Regions from separate parts of the Homo sapiens genome. Here region 2 is linked to region 1. Evidence: fine-mapped expression QTL. Tissue or cell type: whole blood. Region 1 holds a variant in brackets; the other region holds the start of a gene. All regions are shown on one strand. Distances are from middle to middle.

Region 1 (8,089 bases):
TGTGGTGGTTTTATTTTGAGACGAAGTTCCACTCTAATTGCCCAGGCTGGAATGCAATGGCGTGATCTCAGCTCACTGCAACCTCTGCCTCCTGGGTTCAAGCGATTCTCCTGTCTCAGCCTCCCGAGTAGGGGGGATTACAGGCACATGCCACCACACCCGGCTAATTTTTGTATTTTTTGTAGAGATGGGGTTTCATTATATTGGTCAGGCTGGTCTCAAACTCCTGACCTCAGGTGATCCGCCCACCTCGGCCTCCCAAAGTGCTGGGATTACAGGCATGAGCCACAGTGCCCGGCCCCAGAAGAGGTTTTATCTAAGTGTAGAATTATGCCAACAAGCCTGGCTAGGAAGGGCAGCCTAGGCAGAGTGCATGGCCTGTGCAAAGGCTGAGGCTTCAGTGTATTAAGGAGCTGTGGTCTACAGGAGGGGCAGGAGGGAAGCTTGGGGCAGGAGGCTGACTGTGACACTCCAGCTCTGCATAATCACTGGACCTGGGTCCCAGTCCTGGTTCTACGGCTGTGAGCACGTCCTCCCACTTTGTGGAGCCTCAGTTGCCTCATCTGTATAATGGAACTGATAAGAGCGGGCACCTGGCGGTCCACTCTGGGGACTTGACTCTGCCTCTTGGGGAACGGGTTGGGGGCGAGGGGAGGATGTTGACTCCTCTGGGTCCCTTTCCCAACAGAAGGAGCATTTCTACCAGAGGCAGCACCGGCTGCCCGAGCCCTCCTGCCCACAGCTGGCCACACTCACCAGCCAGTGTCTGACCTATGAGCCAACCCAGAGGCCATCATTCCGCACCATCCTGCGTGACCTCACCCGGCTGCAGCCCCACAGTGAGCTCCATCCCAGTGCTGGGACCCTGGGGAAGTGGGACGGGGCTGGGATCCCTGCTGTATGCCTATAGCGCACGAGAGGTCTCTGCACAGTGGTTCAGGGTGTGTGCCAATTTCTTGCAGTGGCATTCATAAGCATGCCCTGCCTGGCTGCCCTGAGCTCTCATTAATGTATTTATTTATTTATTTGCAATGGAATCTTGCTCTGTCACCCAGCCTGGAGCGCAGTGACGTGATCTTGGCTCACTGCAACCTCCACCTCCCAGGTTCAAGCAATCCTCCCACCTCAGCCTCCCAAGTAGCTGGGATTACAAGCGTGTGCCACCATGCCCGGCTAATTTTTGTATTTTTAGTAGAGGTGGGGTTTTGCCATGTTGGCCAGGCTGGTCTCAAACTCTAGACCTCAAATGATCTATCTGCTTCAGCCTCCCAAATTGCTGGGATTACAGGCGTGAGCCACTGCGCCTGGCCTCCTTAATGTTTTGTCTGGGGAGAGACACAACTTCTTTGGATTAGAGAATTAGACCACTGCAGTTTTTTTTTTCTTTTTAAAAAAGTTTTGTATTGTTCTCTTTAAAAAATTAATATGCTCTTTTTTCTTTTTTTTGAGACGGAGTCTCACTCTGTTGCCAGGCTGGAGTGCAGTGGTGCAATCTTGGCTCACTGCAACCTCCGTCTCCCAGGTTCAAGTAATTGTCCTGCCTCAGCCTCCTGGGTAGCTGGGACTACAGGCGCCCACCACCACGCCGGGCTAATTTTTGTATTTTTAGTAGAGACGGGAATTCACCATGTTGGCCAGGATGGTCTCAGTCTCTTGACCTCGTGATCCACCCGCCTCGGCCTCCCAAAGTGCTGGGATTACAGGCATGAGCCACTGCGCCTGACCTATTTTCTTTTTTTTTTTCTTTCTTTCTTTTTTTTTTTTTTGAGATGGAGTTTTGCTCTTGTTGCACAGGCTGGAGTGCAATGGCACGATCTCGGCCCACTGCAACCTCCGCCTCCTGGGTTCGAGCAATTCTCCTGCCTCAGCCTCCCGAGTAGCTGGGATTACAGGCGTCCACCACCACACCCAGCTAATTTTTGTATTTTTAGTAGAGACGGGGTTTCACTGTGTTGGCTAGGCTGGTCTCAAACTCCTGACCTCAGGTGATCCACCCTCCTCAGCCTCCCAAAGTGTTGGGATTACAGGCGTGAGCCACCACGCCCGGCCTAATATGCCATTTTCAACTGGTCATATCACATTTTTCTTTCTCTTTTTTGTTTTAAAGACTAGGTCTTGCTGTGTTGCCCAGGCAGGAGTGTGGTGGTTATTCAGAGGCACGATCATGGCTCACTGCAGCCTGAGACTCCTGGGCTCTAGGGATCCTCCTGCCTCGGCCTCCCAAAGTGCTGGGATTACAGGTGTGAGCCACCACGCCTGGCCAGTTTTTCTCTTTTCTCTATGAAATATCTGTGCCCTCTACCCAATCTCGGAACTTCCAGATGTCAGGTTTTTCTGTTTTTTCTTTTTCTTTCTTTCTTTCTTTTTTTTTTTTTTAAAGACAGTGTCTCTCTGTGGCCCAGACTCACTGCAGCCTCAAAACTCCTGGGCTCAAACGATCCTCCTACCTCAGCCTCCTGAGTAGCTGGGACCACAGGCATGCACCACCACACCTGGCTAATTTTTTTTTTTAACTTTTTTGTAGAGAGGGGGTTTCACCATGTTGTCCAGGCTGGTCTTGAACTCCCGGGCTCAAGTGATCTTCCCGCCTCGGCCTCCCAAACAGGTGTCAGTTTTGATGCAGCCAACTCTGCATCATTTTGTACAATAAGTGGACTCTTTCAGCTGTTGCAGGAAAAAGTTTTCTTACCTCTAGAATCGGATCCTGGGGTAGCTGTGGCTGGCTTTGTGACTCCCAAGTGTGGGCCTGCTGGGGAAAGGATCGGGGTCAGGCCTTTACCCACCGCAACTCTTCCAGATCTTGCTGACGTCTTGACTGTGAACCCGGACTCACCGGCGTCGGACCCTACGGTTTTCCACAAGCGCTATTTGAAAAAGATCCGAGATCTGGGCGAGGTGAGGGACGGGCCTGAGCTGCTAAAAGGCCCGCCTGGTCGGGAAGGAGTTTGGGGGTTGAGGATAAATTCCTACCTAAGGTGATTCTCAGGAGATGTGGGTGGGACCCTCTGCTTTGAGGGAGGCCTAGGTGCCAAGGAGTCTTAATAGAGCGGAGTAGGCGGGGCCTGGGGTATTCCGAAAGGATCTGCCTGGAGGAGTGGCCCGGGAAATCGGGGGTTGGGGAGTGGTGCAGGGATTGGGGAGGTGGAGCTGACCCTCGTGCGCTCCCGACCAGGGTCACTTCGGCAAGGTCAGCTTGTACTGCTACGATCCGACCAACGACGGCACTGGCGAGATGGTGGCGGTGAAAGCCCTCAAGGCAGACTGCGGCCCCCAGCACCGCTCGGGCTGGAAGCAGGAGATTGACATTCTGCGCACGCTCTACCACGAGCACATCATCAAGTACAAGGGCTGCTGCGAGGACCAAGGTGGGCGGGACCCGGCGAGTCCTAGAGACT[T/C]GAGGGGGCGTGGTTAGAGCGTGGGTGTGGCCTTGTGGGCGGGGCCAGTCTGGCCTAGCCAATTAGAGACTCTCAACCCCAGGCTGCAGTACGCGGTTCTTGGCATCTGGGTGAGCGTGGCTGGGCTGCCTCCTTCCCATCTGGGGGGTGCTACCTGCTGGGGCCAGGATGGACGGGAGCCACCAGCAGCTCCCTCAAGTGAGAATGGGGTTCTGGATGGGTCCATCCCACCTGAGAACTGGGTCTAGTGTGCGCGGGTCTTGGCCTTCCCTCCCGACCTTGGAGGGGCTCTGCTGGGCTCAAGGTAGGCGGTCCCCGGCCCGCCCTCTATCGTCCCCCACCGGGGCCGCCCCTCTCCGCGGCAGGCGAGAAGTCGCTGCAGCTGGTCATGGAGTACGTGCCCCTGGGCAGCCTCCGAGACTACCTGCCCCGGCACAGCATCGGGCTGGCCCAGCTGCTGCTCTTCGCCCAGCAGATCTGCGAGGTTGGTCGGCCCCGCCCCTGCTTCTGGAGCTTGCCCCTTCCTCTTCAGCTTGGGCTGGCCTGAGCGATCCGGTGCAGTCTGCTCTCACGCTCCGCCCCTGCTCGTTTGCCCAGGCTGTCTTGTCCTTGCACTGACCTCCGAACTGTTTGGCTTGCTTGGCCACACCCCCTCCTCCCAAGGGACCACGCACAGCCGGCTCGGCCCCTCCCAACTCGCCCTCCTGCCCAGCTTTGCTCGTCTAGCCCCGTCCCTGCTTTCTGGCTCAGCCTCCTTTTGCTTGGTGCCACGTGCCATCCGGCCCTCTCCAGCGGCCGGGTAGCCACCGGCCTGACCTGACTGTCCCCCAGCCCTCCTGGCTGCTCAGGTCCTGCCGCCGCCCCCGGCCGAACCCCGCCCCACTGAAACTCACGAGCCCTGCCCCGTCCCCAGGGCATGGCCTATCTGCACGCGCAGCACTACATCCACCGAGACCTAGCCGCGCGCAACGTGCTGCTGGACAACGACAGGCTGGTCAAGATCGGGGACTTTGGCCTAGCCAAGGCCGTGCCCGAAGGCCACGAGTACTACCGCGTGCGCGAGGATGGGGACAGCCCCGTGTTCTGGTGACCAGGCGGGGTGCAGTCTGAGGGGGTGCTGGGGTCACTTGGAACAGGCAGGGTGGAGTAGACGGATGCTGGGTATCATGATAGGGCATGATCCCAGTGAAGCGCGGCGGGGCCTAGCGGTGCGGGGGTGGGGCCTATGGAGGCAAGGGGCGGTGTATAGAGTGCGGCTTGGCCTGGTGGGCGGGGTTAACCCGGCCTAGCCAATGAGCGGCCTAGCCAATGAGCATATCACCCCGCTCAGGCTGCGCTCTTAAGGGTGGGTCCCAACTGAGCCCAGAGGGTCCTTCAGTCTCAGGTGAGGGCTTCAGCCTGGTCTGATCCCCAAGCCCTCAGTGCAGCCCCCCGTGGCCTGAGTGCCCCCCTCCCCCTAGGTATGCCCCAGAGTGCCTGAAGGAGTATAAGTTCTACTATGCGTCAGATGTCTGGTCCTTCGGGGTGACCCTGTATGAGCTGCTGACGCACTGTGACTCCAGCCAGAGCCCCCCCACGGTGAGAGCCAGGCCCGCAGCCCCACCGGGAGTTTGCTAGAGCAATTAGAAAGGCATAGGCTGGGCCAGGCGCGGTGGCTCAAGCCTGTAATCCCAGCACTTTGGGAGGCCGAGGCGGGCGGATCACGAGGTCAGGAGATCGAGACCAACCTGGCTAACACGGTGAAACCCGTCTCTACTAAAAATACAAAAAAAATTAGCCAGGCGTGGTGGCGGGCGCCTGTAGTCCCAGCTACTCAGGAGACTGAGGCAGGAGAATGGCATGAACCCGGGAGGCGGAGCTTGCAGTGAGCCGAGATCTCCCGACTGCACTCCAGCTGGGTGACAGAGCGAGACTCCGTCTAAGACAGGACAGGACGGAGAGAGAGAGAAAGAAAAGAAAGGAAAGAAAGGCATAGGCCGGGCGCGGTGGCTGACACCTGTAATCGCAGCACTTTGGGAGGCCGAGGCGGGCAGATCACGAGGTCAGGAGATCGAGACCAGCCTGGCCAACATGGTGAAACCCCGTCTCTACTAAAAATACAAAAATTAGCCGGGCGTGGTGGCAGGTGCCTGTAATCCCAGCTACTCAGGCGGCTGAGGCAGGGAGAATTGCTTGAACCCGGTAGGCGAAGGTTGCAGTGAGCCGAGATCATGCCACTGCACTCCAGCCTGGGTGAAAGAGCGAGAGACTGTCTCAAAAAAAAAATTCTGGACGGTAAGAACAATCTGCTGTGAGGCTTAATAATAACGGCAAACACCTGACTCACGCTTACTCTATGAATATTAGTTTAACGTTCACAGTAATCCCAGGTGGCAGATGTTATTACCCTATTTTACGGATGAGAAAACAGGCCCAGAGAAGTGAACTCAAATTCAAAGTCACACAGCTGAGAAGTGTAAGAGGTGGGATTGGAACCCATGCAGTCGATTTCATGAAGTTGCAGAGTGATTTCTTTTTCTTTTTTGAGATGGAGTTTCACACTTGTATCCCAGGCTGGAGTGCAATGGCACAATCTCGGCTCACTGCAACCTCCGCCTCCCAGGTTCAGACGATCCTCCTGCCTCAGCCTCCCAAGTAGCTGGGATTACGGGCGCCTGCCATTATGCCCAGCTAATTTTTGTATTTTTAGTAGAGATGGGGTTTCACCATGTTGGCCAGGCTGGTCTCGAACTCCTGACCTCAGGTGATCCACCCACCTCAGCCTTCCAAAGTGCTGGGATTACAGGCATGAGCCACCGTGCCTGCCTTTCATTGCCTCTTGAAAAGAGCTTGTCTTGTTTATACTGTAGAAATTCCTTGAGCTCATAGGCATTGCTCAGGGTCAGATGACAGTTCTGAGACTCACTGAGTTGCTGGAACGAGGGGAGAGGCTGCCACGGCCCGACAAATGTCCCTGTGAGGTGAGACTTCCTTTGTCTTTCCCTGACCCCACTATCCTGCTGTGGAGAGGGCAGCCCCCACCAGCCCTGGTTTTTCCTTCTAGGTCTATCATCTCATGAAGAACTGCTGGGAGACAGAGGCGTCCTTTCGCCCAACCTTCGAGAACCTCATACCCATTCTGAAGACAGTCCATGAGAAGTACCAAGGCCAGGCCCCTTCAGTGTTCAGCGTGTGCTGAGGCACAATGGCAGCCCTGCCTGGGAGGACTGGACCAGGCAGTGGCTGCAGAGGGAGCCTCCTGCTCCCTGCTCCAGGATGAAACCAAGAGGGGGATGTCAGCCTCACCCACACCGTGTGCCTTACTCCTGTCTAGAGACCCCACCTCTGTGAACTTATTTTTCTTTCTTGGCCGTGAGCCTAACCATGATCTTGAGGGACCCAACATTTGTAGGGGCACTAATCCAGCCCTTAAATCCCCCAGCTTCCAAACTTGAGGCCCACCATCTCCACCATCTGGTAATAAACTCATGTTTTCTCTGCTGGAGCCTGTGATTTTTGGAGCCCTCTTCAAGAAAGCTGGGTTAGCTGGGAGTCTGGTCTCCTGTGGACAGCAGCTAGCATGAGACAGCGCAGAGGTGGCTGGATTCAACTGTTTAACTTTTTTTTTTTTTTCTTTTTGAGACAGAGTCTTGCTCTGTCGCCCAGGCTGGAGTGCAGTGGCGTGATCTAGGCTCACTGCAAGCTCCGCCTCCTGGGTTCACACCATTCTCCTGCCTCAGCCTCCCGAGTAGCTGGGACTACAGGTGACCGCCTCCATGCCTGGCTAATTTTTTGTATTTTTAGTAGAGTTGAGGTTTCACCTTATTGGCCAGGCTGGTCTTGAACTCCTGACCTCAGGTGATCCACCTGCCTCCGCCTCCCAAAGTGCTGGGATTACAGGTGTGAGCCATTGCGCCTGGCCAATAACTACTTGTTGAATACACAAAGTATTTGGTCGGGGCGGTCACAAGCCACATAGATTAGACTGCCAGTTTCACCCTTTCACATTTGTGTGACCTCAGGCTAATGGCTTCACCTCTCTGGGCCTTAGTCCTCCATTATGGGAGCTTCACACTTGCTATCTCATAGGACTCATGTAAAGAGCTCATGAGGTGGTGTCTGTGAAATGCTGAGCAGAAAGACATGCAAACAAGTGCTTAATAAATATACAATATTGGCCGGGCACGGCAGCTCACGCCTGTAATCCCAGCACTTTGGGAGGCCACGAGGATCACAAGGTCAGGAGATTGAGACCATCCTGGCTAACACGGTGAAACCCCGTCTACTAAAAATACAAAAAAATTAGCCGGGCGTGGTGGCGGGTGCCTGTAGTCCCAGCTACTCGGGAGGCTGAGGCAGGAGAATGTCATGAACCCAGGAGGCGGAGATTGCAGTGAGCCGAGATTGCACCACTGCACTCCAGCCTGGGTGACAGAGAAAGACTCTGTCTCAAAAAAATAATAATTAAATAAATAAATATACAATATTATTGTTGACTGGATGCAGTGGCTCATTGCTTGTAACCCCAGCACTTTGGGAGGCTGAGGCAGGAGGATCCCTTGAGTCCAGGAGTTCGAGACCAGCCTGGGCAACATAGGGAGATCCTGTCCGTATTTTTATTTATTTATTTATTTGTTTATTTATTTTTGAGGCAGTTTCACTGTTCTCCAGGCTGGAGTGCAATGGTGCTATCTCGGCTCACTGCAACCTCCCCC
Region 2 (8,089 bases), 28 kb before region 1:
TTAATCGCCTCATGTGGCATTTCCTTCTAGTTCCTTTGGGAGCGGGGAATACCGGGTCCCAGGCCCACTCGGCCCACTGTGTTCTAGCATCTAATCACGGAGCATTGCCCCAATGGCTGTTGAAAAATCTGGCACTCTCTAGGCCGGGCACGGTGTCTCACACCAGTATTACCCAGCACTTTGGGAGGCCGAGGTGGGTGGATCACCTGAGGTCGGCAGTTCAAGACCAGCCTGACCAACATGGAGAAACCCCATCTCTACTAAAAATACAAAAAAGTAGCCGGGCGTGGTGGCGCATGCCTGTAATCCCAGCTACTTGGGAGGCTGAGGCAGGAGAATCGCTTTAACCCAGGAGGCAGAGGTTGTGGTGAGCCGAGATTGTGCCATTGCACTCCAGCCTGGGCAACAAGAGCGAAACTCCCTCTCTCAATAAAAGAAAAAAGGAAAAAGAAAAATCTGGCACTCTTGGCTTCTAGGTACTGTACTCTAAGCGGCGACAGAGAGGAAGCTCACAGCCAGCCCTCCCGCAGCAGGCAGGACAACAGCCAGGGATTCCTGGCTCCCAGGCCATTCATTCCCCTCCAGCTGTGGCTTCTTAAGCCACCTACTGGGCTGGATGCACAATCTCAGGCACTGAGGGCTTAGCAGACAACCAGACGGACCTCTTTCTGGTGCGGTCCTAGAACCGCAGACAGGCAATAGAACTTGTGCTCAAAGAAACTTCCCAGGGGCTGGGCACGGTGGCTCATGCCTGTAATCCCAGCAGTTTGGGAGGTCAAGGCCAGAGGTCCACTTGAGCCCAGCAGTTTGAGCCCAGTAGTTTGAGACCAGCCTGGGCAACATAGTGAAAACCCATTTCTAAAAAAATTACACACACACAAAAGTTAGCCAGCCGGCCAGGCGAGGTGGCTCACACCGGTATTCCCAGCACTTTGGGAGGCCAAGGCGGGAGGATCACGAGGTCAGGAGATCAAGGCCATCCTGGCCCACATGGTGAAACCTCGTCCCTACTAAAAAATACTAAAAAATTAGCCGGGTGTGGTGGCATGCGCCTGTAATCCCAGCAGTTTGGGAGGTCAAGGCGGGAGGACCACTTGAGCCCAGTAGTTTGAGACCAGCCTGGGCAACATGGTGAAAACCCATTTCTTTTCCTTTTTTTTTTTTTGAGATAGAGTCTCACTCTGTCGCCCAGGCTAGAGTGCAGTGGCGCGATCTCAGCTCACTGCAAACTCCGCCTCCCAGGTTCAAGTGATTCACCTGCCTCAGCTTCCCAAGTAGCTGGGATTATAGGCACCCACCAACACACCCGGCTAATTTTTGTATTTTTAGTAGAGACGGGGTTGGTGGAAGCCCATTTCTATAAAAAATACACACACACAAAAGTTAGCCAGGCGGCTGGGCGCGGTGGCTCACTTCTGTAATCCCAGCACTTTGGGAGGCCGAGGCGTGAGGATCATGAGGTCAGGAGATTGAGGCCATCCTGGCCAACATGGTGAAACCCCATCTCTACTAAAAAATACAAAAAAATTAGCTGGGTGTGGTGGCACACGCCTGTAATCCCAGCTTCTCTGGAGGCTGAGGCAGAAGAATCGCTAGAACCTGGGAGGCAGGGATTACAGTGAGCCGAGATCGTGCCACTGCACTTCAGCCTAGCAACAGAGCAAGACTCCGCCTCAAAAAAAAAAAAGTTACCCAGGCATCGTGATGCACATCTGTAGTCCCAGCTACTCAGGAGGCTGAGGTGGAAGATTGTGAATGGTGAATCTGGGAAGTTGAGACTGCAGTGAATTGAGATCACAGCACTGCACTCCAGCCTGGGCAACAGAGCGAGATTCTTGTCTCAAAAAAAAAAAAAAAAAAAAAAAAAAGAAAGAAAGAAAGAAGAGAAACCCAGCTGGGCGCGGTGGCTCACATCTGTAATCCCAGCACTTTGGGAGGCCAAGGCGGGTGGATCACCTGAGGTCAGGAGCTCGAGACCAGTATGGCCAACCTGGCCAAACCCTGTCTCTATTAAAAATACAAAAATTAGCCAGGCGTGGTGGTGCACGCCTGTAATCCCAGCTACCGGGGATGCTGACGCAGGAGAATTGCTTGAACCTGAGAGGCAGAGGTTGCAGTGAGCCAAGATTGCGCCACTGCACTCCAGCCTGGGCAACAGAGCAAGACTCTGTCTCTTTAAAAAAAAAAAAAAAGAAAGAAACTTCCCATGAAATGTCAGGTTGCAATAAGGACTCTGAAGAAAATACAGCAGAGCCCAGGAGGTCAAGTTGCCCAGGCTGGAGTGCAGTGGTGTGATCACGGCTCACTGTAGCCTCAACCTCCTGGGCTCAAGCAATCCTCCCACCTCAGCCTTCGGAGTAGCTGGGACTAACTAATTTTTTTTCCCCCCGAGATGGAGTCTCACTCTGTAGCCCAAGCTGGAGTGCAGTGGTGGGATCTCAGCCCACTGCAACCTCCACCTCCTGGGCTCAAGCGATTCTCATACTTCAGCCTTAGACTAATTTTTTTTATTTTGGGTAGAGATGGGGTCTTGCTATATTGCCCAGGTTGGTCTTGAACTGGGCCCAGACAGTACTCCTTCTTTAGCTCCCTGAAGTGCTAGGTTTATAGGGATGAGCCACTGCATCCAGCCAGGACAAGTCTCTATCAGCATTTTATTTTATTTTATTTTATTTTATTTTTGAGACAGAGTCTCACTCTGGCGCCCAGGCTGGAGTGCAGTGGCGCAATCTCGGCTCACTGCAAGCTCCGCCTCCCCGGTTCACGCCATTCTCCTGCCTCAGGCTGCCACTACGCCCAGCTAATTGTTTGTATTTTTAGTAGAGACGGGGTTTCACCGCCTTAGCCAGGATGGTCTCGATTTCCTGACCTCATGATCCGCCCACCTCGGCCTCCCAAAGTGCTGGGATTACAGGCGTGAGCCACTGTGCCCGGCCTCTATCAGCATTTTCTTTCTTTTTCTTTTTCTTTTTTTTTTTTTGAGACAGAGTTTAGCTCTTGTTGCCCAGGCTGAAGGGCAATGGTGTGATCTCGGCTCACTGCAACTTCTGCCTCCCAAGTTCAAGCGATTCTCCTGCCTCAGCCTCCTGAATAGCTGGGATTACAGGTGCCCACCACCATGCCCAGCTAATTTTTGCATTTTTAGTAGAGACAGGGTTTCACCATGTTGGCCAGTCTGGTCTTGAACTCCTGACCTCAGGTGATCCGCCCGCCTCCACCTCCCAAAGTGCTGGGATTACAGGTGTGAAAGAGACCATTCCCGATCTCTTTCAGCATTTTCATACTGAATGTCCACAGCTGCCCTGTGAGGAGGCTTTTTACCCATATTTTCTGACTCAGAGAGAAGCAGCCACATGTCCCTTGGCCATGGCAGTTAAGACCAACTCCATGGAGCTGGGTGTCTTAGCTCACATCTGTAATCCCAGCACTTTGGAAAGCCAAGGCAGGATGATTGCTTGAGGCCAGAAGTTCAAGACCAGCCTGGGCAACATAGCCAGACCCCATCTCTACAAAAATTTAAAAATTAGCCACAAAATTTAAAAATTAACAACAAAAGGGCCGGGTGCGGTGGCTCACGCCTGTAATCCCAGCGCTTTGGGAGGGTGGATCACGAGGTCAGGAGTTCGAGACCAGCCTGGCCAAGATGGTGAAATCCCATCTCTACTAAAAATACAAAAATTAGCCGGGCGTGGTGGCGGGCGCCTGTTGTCCCAGCTACCCAGGAGGCTGAGGCAGGAGAATCGCTTGAATCCGGGAGTCTGAGGTTGCAGTGAGCCGAGATCGCAGCATTGCACTCCAGCCTGGGCGACAAGAGCGAAACTCCATCTTAAAAAAAAAAAAAAAAAAAAGTGGAAGATGAGGAAGTTGATCAGACATCAAGGATGAGCGGATGACTTAATAGGCTTCTTTGCTAAGACTTGGCTGGGCAGGTGAAAGACAAAGTCGAGGAGTGGTTATGGTGTGGCACAGAAGAAGGGTCAGAGGACGGTCTTTGTTACCTCTTCATGCCTGAGTTTCTTCCTCTGTGAAATGGGGATAATAAGAGCCGCCATACAGGGAATTGCTGCTAGGATCAAATGAGATAATGTATGTGAAACGCTCTGGCTGTAGGCTTCTCAGCAAATGGGCACGACTTGCGGAGTGGGGATTTGAATTCACGTCTGGCGGGATGTCCAAGCTGCTACCCTGACCGCTAGGGAGCTTCAGAGGACAGGGCTGCAGGTGATCAGGAAGAGGACTGGGGCAGGTGGGCGAGGAATGCCTCCCAGGAGTGAAGGAGGGGGAATTCTAGTCAGCAGGATGGAGTCGGCCAGGTAGAAACGAGGGAAAGGAGACAGGACCGGATGGAACGGGGAAGCCAAAGGGCAGGGCGTCGGAGGGTTGAATGGTGGCCGGTGCAGCTTTGAACACCGAGGTGAGGACATGCAGCTGTGTCCTAGGGTCAGGACCGTACACGCCTGACCCAATTCCACAGCACGGAGGGGAACTCCAGGATCCGGCCGCGTTGCCCACACACTTCGCTCTCCCTCCCGCCTCTCGCAAGCCCCTCCCCCGTCTCCGTCCACCGAGTGCCAGCCAATAGCAGAAGCGACAGCGCATCTGGGTGCCGACTCAGCCAATCGCGGCTGAGTGACGAATGAGCCCCAGGACCAATGAGAGTGCCGCCACCATGGCAAAAAAAAAAAAATCCAATGGTGACGAGCAGGGAGAACAGAGCAGCTGCCAATGGGCGTGTGCGTTTCAGGCGGCCAATGGGAGGAGGCGTCTCGGCGGGGGACAAGCAGTAGCTACCCGCGGGAGCGGGGAGGGGTCCGGGTTCGAGCTTGTGTTCCCCCGGAAGGGTGAGTCTGGACGCGGGCGCGGAAGGAGCGCGGCCGGAGGTCCTCAGGAAGAAGCCGCGGGGACTGGCTGCGCTTGACAGGCTGCACTTGGATGGGAGCACCTGGTGCCTCGGGACTGCTCCGATGCCCGGTGGGTGCACATCCCAGTTCCCGCCGTTGCCGGCCGGGTTTAGAGGTTTTGGGGGGAGGACATGGGGGCGTGCAGCCTTCCCAGTTGCAAACTTCACTCCGACCCTGTCTTCAAAGCTGGGTCTGGGTCCAGTGGGGACGAGAAAGGAGGAAGGAGGAAGTAGGCTCCGCGAAAGCCCCATCCCCGGGATCTCATCTATAACATGAATAGGTATTAATGGCAAAGGCTAATTAAGCGCTTACTGTATACCAGGCACTTTCTCTGCCTCCTCGCGTTAAATCCTCCCAGCAGCCTTTTGAGGTAGACACTGTTACATGCCCATTTTCCAGATGAGGAAACCAGCAACATGGGTGGAAGTGACAGCCCCTCCACTTCCATACTGGCGCCCTCAGGAGGCTCAGGCCCTGGATTGGGGGGATGGAGCTGGACATAAACTCTCCTAGGCTTTGGGGAGTCAACAGGGACTGAGGTCACTCATGGGGGTAAATGTGGGAGAGGAGAATTGTGGCCTGAAAGAGGCCATCACCACGATGAAACTAATAACAATTATGTTATTCTTGTTTTGGTCATATTTGTTCTTTTTGTGTGTGCCTGAATCAGGGTCTGTGCTGAATGTGTAATATGCGGAACTATATTGAAACATTACAACCATCTTTTGATGGCAACACCCTGAGGACCTCCCTTTTCCAGATGGGGAAACTGAGGCCCAGAATTGCTAAGTGGCTTGCTTGAGTTGACACAGGGAGCTCCAGGACTCACCCTCAGGTATGTTTGACCACATCTGCCTGTCTGGTTATTTTGGGGAGGTGTGTTAAGAGCAGATTTTTATTTTACTTTTTATTTATTTATTTATTTATTTATTTATTTATTTATTGTATTTTAGTAGAGATGGGGTTTCACCATGTTGGTCAAGATGGTCTCAATCTCCAGACCTCGTGATCTGTCCGCCTTGGCCTCCCAAAGTGCTGGGATTACAGTCATGAGCCACCGCGCCTGGCCCTTTTTATATATTTTTATTACTTATTTATTTATTTATTTATTTATATTTTTAGAGTCAGGGTCTCACTCTGTCACCCAGGCTGGAATGCAGTGGTGCGATCACTGCTCACTGCAGCCTCCAACTCCTGGGCTCAGGAGATCCTCCCACTTCAGCCTCCCGAGTAGCTTGGAGTACAGATGTGCACCCCCACGCCTGGCTAAATTTTAAAAATTTCTTGTAGAGGCCGGGCACAGTGGCTCACGCCTGTAATCCCAGCACTTTGGGAGGCCGAGGCGGGTGGATCACCTGAGGTCAGAGGTTCAAGACCAGCCTGGCCAACATGGCAAAACCCTGTCTCTACTAAAAATACAAAAATTAGCCCGGTGTGGTGGCAGGCGCCAGCTACTCAGGAGGCTGAGGCAGGAGAATCACTTAAACCCAGGAGGCAGAGGTTGTGGTGAGCAAGATTGTACCATTGCACTCCAGCCTGGGCAACAAGAGTGAAACTCTGTCTCAAAAATAAGATAAGATAAGATAAGATAAGATAAGATAAGATAAGATAAGATATAAAATAAAACGTCTTGTAGAAACAGGGTCTTGCTATATGGCCTAGGCTGGTCTCGAGCTCCTGGGCTCAAGCAATCCTCTTGCCTCAACATCCCAAAGTCCTGGGATTAGAGGCGTGAGCCACTGTACCTGGCCAGAGCAGATTTTTATATCTGTGTCAATTTGTGGAAAGAGAGGAGGGTTCAGTGTTATTGTTGATGAGAGATCTAGGTGGGGATGCATACCCCAACCCTGTCCAATAAATGTGGAAAACGAGACTCAGAGAGGGAATCGGGTCTCTAATGTCATGCCAAGATGGGAGCCCAGAATCTTCCCCTCAGGCCTTAGCTGGGGTGGGTGGAAGGTTGAAGAGCTAACAGGGGTCTCTGGGCTGAGACTTGGGAGCTGACAGATTGTCCCCTTTCCAGCTGAGCCACCTGCCGGGAGCATGCCTCTGCGCCACTGGGGGATGGCCAGGGGCAGTAAGCCCGTTGGGGATGGAGCCCAGCCCATGGCTGCCATGGGAGGCCTGAAGGTGCTTCTGCACTGGGCTGGTCCAGGCGGCGGGGAGCCCTGGGTCACTTTCAGTGAGTCATCGCTGACAGCTGAGGAAGTCTGCATCCACATTGCACATAAAGTTGGTGAGTCTGGGGCGTTGGCACCATGGGGACTGGGGTGGGTGTGCAAGCAGCAGCTGGGCCCCATCCATCCGTCTATCCACCCACCCACCCATCCACCCACCCATCCACCCACTCATCCATCCATCCATCCATCCACCCATCCACCCACCCATCCACCCTCCCAACCACCCATCCATCCACCCACCCACCCATCCATCCACCCATGCATCCATCCATCCTCCCATCCACCCATCCACCCACCCATTCACCCACCCATTCACCCATCCACCCACCCTTTCACCCATCCACCCATCCACCCATTCATCCACCCACCCACCCACCCATCCATCCACCCACGCATCCATCCACCCACCCACCCACCCATCCATCCACCCACGCATCCATCCATACATCCACCCACCCACTCATCCATCCACCCACCTATCCACCTATCCATCCACCTACTCACCCACCCATCCACCCACCTATCCACCCACCCACCCATCCACCCATCCATCCACCCACCCATTCATCCATCTATCCATCCATCCACCCATCGATCCATCCATACCCACCCATTCATCCATCCACCCATCCATCCACCCACCCATCCACCCATCCATCCACCCATCCATCCATTCATCCATCCATCCATCCACCCACCCACCCATCCATCCACCCACCCACCCATCCATCCATCCATCCATCCACCCACCCACTCACCCACTCACCCACCTATCCATGCATCCATCCATCCACCCACCCATCCATCCTCCCACCCATTCATCCATCTATCCATCCATCCATCCATCCATCCATCCATCCATCCATCCACCCACCCACCCACCTATTCATCCATCTATCCATCCATCCATCCATCCATCCATCCATCCATCCATCCATCCATCCACCCGTTCATTCGGTGAACATTTTGTAAGCATCTACTGTGTGGCAGCTGCAAATCACTGCCTTT

What was found. PIP is the estimated chance that this variant, and not a neighbour inherited with it, causes the effect.
Region 2: it holds the start of TYK2, and the variant in region 1 is fine-mapped to the expression of TYK2 in whole blood (TOPMed, PIP above 0.99). The same link has a PIP of 0.9 or more in lung, pancreas, sigmoid colon, spleen, subcutaneous fat and thyroid.

Annotation. Positions count from the first base shown.
Region 1 is chr19:10,349,318-10,357,406 of GRCh38, reverse strand. It overlaps TYK2 (tyrosine kinase 2), which reads left to right. Exons shown (of 25, transcript NM_003331.5): 18 at 689-839; 19 at 2,798-2,895; 20 at 3,173-3,365; 21 at 3,761-3,879; 22 at 4,309-4,481; 23 at 4,856-4,973; 24 at 6,245-6,355; 25 at 6,439-6,874. The coding sequence ends at 6,573. Among named protein-coding and RNA genes, the nearest start is that of ICAM3, 14 kb to the right of the region's middle. RefSeq lists a silencer at 3,446-3,495 and an enhancer at 3,397-4,160. The variant T/C (reference allele first, on the strand shown) is at 3,396.
Region 2 is chr19:10,377,262-10,385,350 of GRCh38, reverse strand. It overlaps TYK2 (tyrosine kinase 2), which reads left to right and starts at 4,779. Exons shown (of 25, transcript NM_003331.5): 1 at 4,779-4,971; 2 at 5,572-5,736; 3 at 6,925-7,137. The coding sequence starts at 6,945. RefSeq lists enhancers at 4,150-4,813, 4,722-4,881.